2 separate regions of the Homo sapiens genome follow, and region 1 is linked to region 2. Evidence: fine-mapped expression QTL. Tissue or cell type: tibial artery. Region 2 holds a variant in brackets; the other region holds the start of a gene. All regions are shown on one strand. Distances are between the middles of the regions.

What was found. PIP is the estimated chance that this variant, and not a neighbour inherited with it, causes the effect.
Region 1: it holds the start of GLP1R, and the variant in region 2 is fine-mapped to the expression of GLP1R in tibial artery (GTEx, PIP 0.98).

What each region holds. Positions count from the first base shown.
Region 1 is chr6:39,047,138-39,049,891 of GRCh38, reverse strand. GLP1R (glucagon like peptide 1 receptor) reads right to left here and starts at 1,111. Exons shown (of 13, transcript NM_002062.5): 1 at 974-1,111. The coding sequence starts at 1,051. RefSeq lists an enhancer at 1-427.
Region 2 is chr6:39,086,921-39,089,674 of GRCh38, reverse strand. GLP1R (glucagon like peptide 1 receptor) reads right to left here. Exons shown (of 13, transcript NM_002062.5): 13 at 1-2,754. Among named protein-coding and RNA genes, the nearest start is that of MIR9983, 14 kb to the right of the region's middle. RefSeq lists an enhancer at 542-1,848. The variant G/T (reference allele first, on the strand shown) is at 1,301.

The sequences.
Region 1 (2,754 bases), 40 kb after region 2:
ACCCAGGACAGGCCACCCAAGTCTATGTCTCCTCTCTGCTCAAGCAAGTCCCAGCATCTTTGGACAGCTCCCCTCTTCAAAAGCAGCTGACCACTGTCCCTAGCCCAGGATCCCAGGGCAGGAAAAGCAACAAGGGCAAGAGAGAGGGGCTGCGGTGGTCCACCTGTGGCCTGCTCTCTGGTGGCACCAAGGAGCCCAGGTGTTCTTGCGTGTCCCAGTATGCCTTCTCTTGGGGCCTGCTGTCAGTGCAGGATGAGAATGGGAGGTCAGCAGAGTGGGTGAGTGGGGGCGCCTGGCTGCTTCCAGGGGGGCACTGAGCCTTCTGCCTGTTTGCTACAGAGGCTGGTAGGGGACGGGGGGTAGGTTCCATCTGGGAGGTCACTGGGAAGGACAAGCTGCCACCGCAGGGCCCCAGGAGCCATGAATCAAAGGCTGTGCTGGGGGCTGATGAGAAAGGGAGAGGAGCCGGGTCTCCGCACCCTGGCCCTCTCAGCTCCTCCCAGGGTCTTCTCAGGGTCTTTGAGCAGGTGGATTGTCTGGGGAGGCACTGCGGGAGAGGGGTCTGGGTCAGACTGTGGGGCAGAGGGAGTCCGGGAGGATGCCGGGCTGTGCCAGGGCCGCTGACACGGTTTAGAAGGAGTTGGGAAAGTGCTGGGGACAAAGGAGAAGCGGAGCAGAAGTCAGCGCAGGGCGGCCGCGGGGCAGCGGGTGCCCGGGCAGAGGGACCCGGGTGGCGAGGAAGAGGGCGCCTCGCTGGGGTTGGGGGGAATCCTCTGTAGTCCAAGCCCTCACCTGGGCCTTCCAGCCCAGGGGCACCAAGTCTCCAGTCCCTACTCCCCCCGAGGCTTTCGGATGCCCCCGCCAGCGGTCTCGGAGTTTCGTTCAAGTCCCGGGGCCCTCCACCAGGACACTGCGCCTGCAGCCCGCAGAGCCACCCGCCTCCCCCGGTGTCGTCGGGGTCCCTGGATCTCACCTGGGGGCGGGGGCCGGCCCTGCCCACCATCCCGAGCAGCAGCAGCGCAAGGCGCAGCGGGCCGGGGGCGCCGGCCATGGCGGGGAGTTCAGGACTGGGCCATCGCTGCCACCTGCGGAACCGCGTGCGGAGACTGATCCCGGGCTGGTGGCGGGCGGTGGGGGAGGAGCCGGCGAGGGGCCGCCCTGCCCGCGGGAGGGGCCTGGCAGGGTCCCGGTTCTTCCGGCCGCCAGAGACCCCTGGGCCCGCCCCGCCGCACCCCTCTGCCGGTCCCGGGCCAGGAGATAGCGGGCACTGCTCTCCGAGCGAGCGCGGCTGGGAATCAGGAAGCGCAGGAGGCGGCCACCAGCTCTGAGCGCCGACAGTGCGCCTGGCCGGCTTTCAGCGACAAGCCAGGCCCTCCTCCCACCCTGGCACCCCGGACCTCCTCCCGGGTCTCCCAGCTGAGGAAAGCTACAGCAACCCCCGCCCATTCAGGGTCCCTCAAAGGAAACTGAGGCCTGAGGAATGGACGGGACTTGTCCAAGGTCACACGGCTTGGCAGGCCACTCCTGGAAAGTATCCTCAGAGCCAGGGGTGACTAATAAGAACTTTTTTTTCCCAGGATTACCCCTTCCCAGGTCCTCTTCTCATTCCCATGTTCTGTCCTGAAGGCAGGCCCAGGATAGTCAAGGTTGGGGGTGGGGAGACTGACAAATGGATCCACAGAACTCTGACAGTCGCAAGGGTCTAGAGGTTCCCCTCTACCTGGAAACTTCAGCATTGCAGGGCAGGGAGGGATGAGGCTGGGGTCTGCCTTTCTGGAAGCTTCCCTGCCACCTCTTGCAGCTCCAGCCTCCTGCTCTTGTAACCTGTGTATGTGTGATAATGTGTGTCCATGGTTGTTCCTGCCTTCTTTATCTCTCTCCCTGCTTCGCTTCTTGGGGACTCTGGATCTTTCCTGTCTGTTTCCACTCCCACCCCTAAACACTGCAGGGCCCTCAGGTTCCCTTCTTACACCCAACAAGTGGAAAGAGAATGCTAAGAGGGCACTGACTGTATCTTCCCTAATGCTCTTGAGAAGTGGGGATGGGAAAAGAGGATCCCCCACCAAAGAACCTTGATGCCACTCTTAGGAAAGATGAGTTGTGGCAGAGCCCAGCCTCGGACCTGCCGTGGGGCATGTCGACTAAAGGGACAGGAAGTTTGTGAAAGTAGCTACTCCTGGGGAGAGAACTGAACTTCTCAAAGTCCTGAGGAAGGCTGGACCTGCCTGAGCCCAGGGAAGGAGACAGCCAGTGGGAGGGGCCCCTGGCTTCCATTCACCAGGAGAGACTCTCCTCTCCAGCAAGCTCTGGTTCCACCACCTGAGACTCGTTTATTCCCTCCCCTCCCAAGAGGTCAGTCTAGCAGGGACCTTCTAGGTATCACTTAGGATTAGGTTGTTCACCTGGGAGTGACAGAAAATCCCACCCCAAACAACAATGGCATAACCAAGGGCTCTCTCATGTAAAGCAAGGCCAGAGGTTCAGCCCAAGGTTGGAGTGGCTGCTCCCTGATCATCAGGGTGCCTGGGTCTTCTAGCTTCCACCATCCTTTGGTCCAAGATTTCCACCTCATGATCCAAGGTGGCTGCTCCAGCCACGATATCCAAATTCCAACCAGCAGGAAGGAGGAATGGGAAGGAGATGGGTGCACCTCCACCCATAAAGACACATCTTGAAAGTGGCAGCCATCAATTCCACACCTCTTGCTCAGAACTTAGTCACATAGGCACTGCTAGCTGCAAAGGAGGGTGGGAA
Region 2 (2,754 bases):
ATGCTGCTATGCACAGAAGAAACATGCACACACACATGCACACACATACACACACACACGCCCACATGCAATGTTCTTTCCTTGCGGAAGAAAGAAATGGGAGGGACTGAGGAGGGGAGGTCTCCTGACTGTGAGCTGCTGGATAGTACACAGCCAACCCTGATGAGAGTGGCCAAGACCTTCAGAGCATGGAAGGGAGTTGACTCCATTTGCCCTTTGTGGTGCTGTGCCATCTTTGCTAGGCTACAGTTGCCGTTTGCTAGCTGTCTCCAAATTCAGAGGTTCTAAAGAGGTAAAGGGGAGGTTCAAGACCTTTTAGGTTATTTTAGTACACTCTGTGTGACTATCAATACAACTTTTCAAACACATAGAGAGGCATCAGAAAAAAAAATTAAGCCAATCCATTAAAAGAGTGCTGGAATTGCCATCCAAAATGGCTTATGTGCTGTTTCTATGTATATGTGTGCCCTGATGCATTTCATTTCTTAAGTTTAAGACAAGGATGAATGAAGTACCAGTGTAAAAATAGGAAAGCACATCCTTCCCCTCCTCTCACCAGTATAAATTACAAAGGAGATGACACTTTCACCATCTGATGAGTCTACCTTTGCTGCTGTATTTCCTCTTCAGTAGAAATTCCAGATAACACCACTGACTTTTACTCAGAGTATCTTGAACAGCTATTTATAGTTTTCACCTATCCTTCCCAGAGGCCTCACTAGACTGAGAGAAAAGGGCTTGTCTGGGTCCTGGCCCAGCTCAACCACCCTCTAGTGTTGTGACCTTGGGCAAGCCACCTCTACAAGCCTCATTCCTCAATCCTATAGATCGGGCCAGGGGGGATCACCAAGGTCTTTCTCTGCTCAGAGCTCTCCCAGAGCTCCAACGATGTGGTCTACAGCATGAGGCACGCTAAGACCATAAAAAATCATCTCTGCAATCCAGAAGCTCATTTTAAAGGGAAGGAACTTTGCAATATAAGTGTTTTGTTTCAGTTCTGCGATTCAGCTGCTTGAAAGACTGAAATGGCAAAGAAAAATTGACAAAATGCAAGCCACTAACAAGTTTGAGGAAGCTGGCCAGAGTGCTGAAGTCAGCTGCTGTTCACAACAGACATCAGACCTTGTGGCTACAAAGCTCAAACAAAAGCAGCGCCTACACCCTGCTGGTCAGCAATAGTACCCCAGGACAGAGGCAGCCGAGAGTTCTCAGCAAGTTCCAGGCGTATGGCATTAGGCATCAGGCATGTAAACAGCTGCTGGAATTTCAGAGTACATTGCATTCAATAGTTCCCAGACCT[G/T]TTGGAGCCATATTTAGCTTAGGAAAGCTTGGAAAGAGTGCAGTGCCATTTGAATGACTATTAATAGCTTCGGGGGGCCGGGGGAGCGGGGGTTGGAGCAAAGAAAAGATTTCTTCAGTTCGGTATCTTGTATGTATTCATGAAGGAAAAACTTCCTCCGTGTTAAAAGACTTGGGTGTAGGGGTCTGATGAGCCTTCTGAAATCAGGAATCACCAGTTCTCGTTGGGAAGACAACTCTACTTACAGTTTAAACTAAATGATTTGAGCTTCCCAGGTGCCTAACTAAGCAACTTCTTCCCTACAATCCCTCTCCTCAGCAATTTATTTCACACAGATTATATCAATCTGTTTCTTTGTTGCTATGTAATGTAATAATGATTCTCAAAATCCTCAGTTTATCCAAAACTTAAACACTTGCACCAGCACTGTTTCCCACATCAACCCACTGGTGCCCACGCTTACGAAGAGACAGCAAATAAGGGGTGCCTTTGGGAAGCCTGCCCTTGTTCTGGGGAAGCAGGAACGCCCCCCTGCCCATATTGTCTCAGTCAAGGCAGCCATCCACACAATTCCTTTCTTTAGCCCGAGGTTCAACTTGCCTATTAACATAGACAACACTTCACTGAAGCTGAAGTATAAGAAATTTTCTACTTGATGTGTTTTATATCCTATTATTTTCCTTGCACATCACATGCCTCTCTGAGGGGCACAGGAGAATGTGTCTGGGGAAAGGTTTTGGGGAGGGTTCCCACCATTTAAAAGGGAGAGAGAGACTGACTCATAAAGGAATCCGTCGGAACCCTCTGCTCTCCCCGGAGGTCCTGACTCCCAAGAGCGAGCTCTCTCTTGCTCCAGAAACTTCTTTTGCAGCCACGAACTCCTTGCCAGCCTCTCTAGGATAGCCATGTGTCTGGCTATCTGCAGTGCTGCTGTGTGTCACCATGGCTTGGGGCTTCCTCACCATGGCTGGGGGCAGGATTGATAGGTTTCCCCGTCCAGTCTTTCTGCTGTTCATTATTTGTGGGGGAGGCTGCAGGCAGGGCAAACCTTAATTAGCTCCAAGTGTGAGTGGGTCAAATCAATTACTACTGCACTCTCCCAAACAACATCACTACAACCATGATTTCGCTCATTTCCACTAGATGGGAGAAGTCAGAATTGCCCATTGTGCACACAGACTATTCACAGCAATAAAGAAAAGTGAGTGAAGTATATACAAGCTCCCAAGTGGGGGAATTTCAAAGGCAGGGGGAGCCTGCCTCCATGGTGCTGATGGGGACTATTGGTTTCCCTAAGAGAGTCTCTTCATGGTCCCCTAAAGCTAGAGAGTGTATCCAAATTCTCAAGAGACAGCGTGTGGTCACAGATAAAGTATTTCCAAGGAGAGGTGGAGGCAATGTCTCTCTTGGCCCTCTGGGCTCCTGGAAGTGGCAGGTAATCTACACCCACAGTC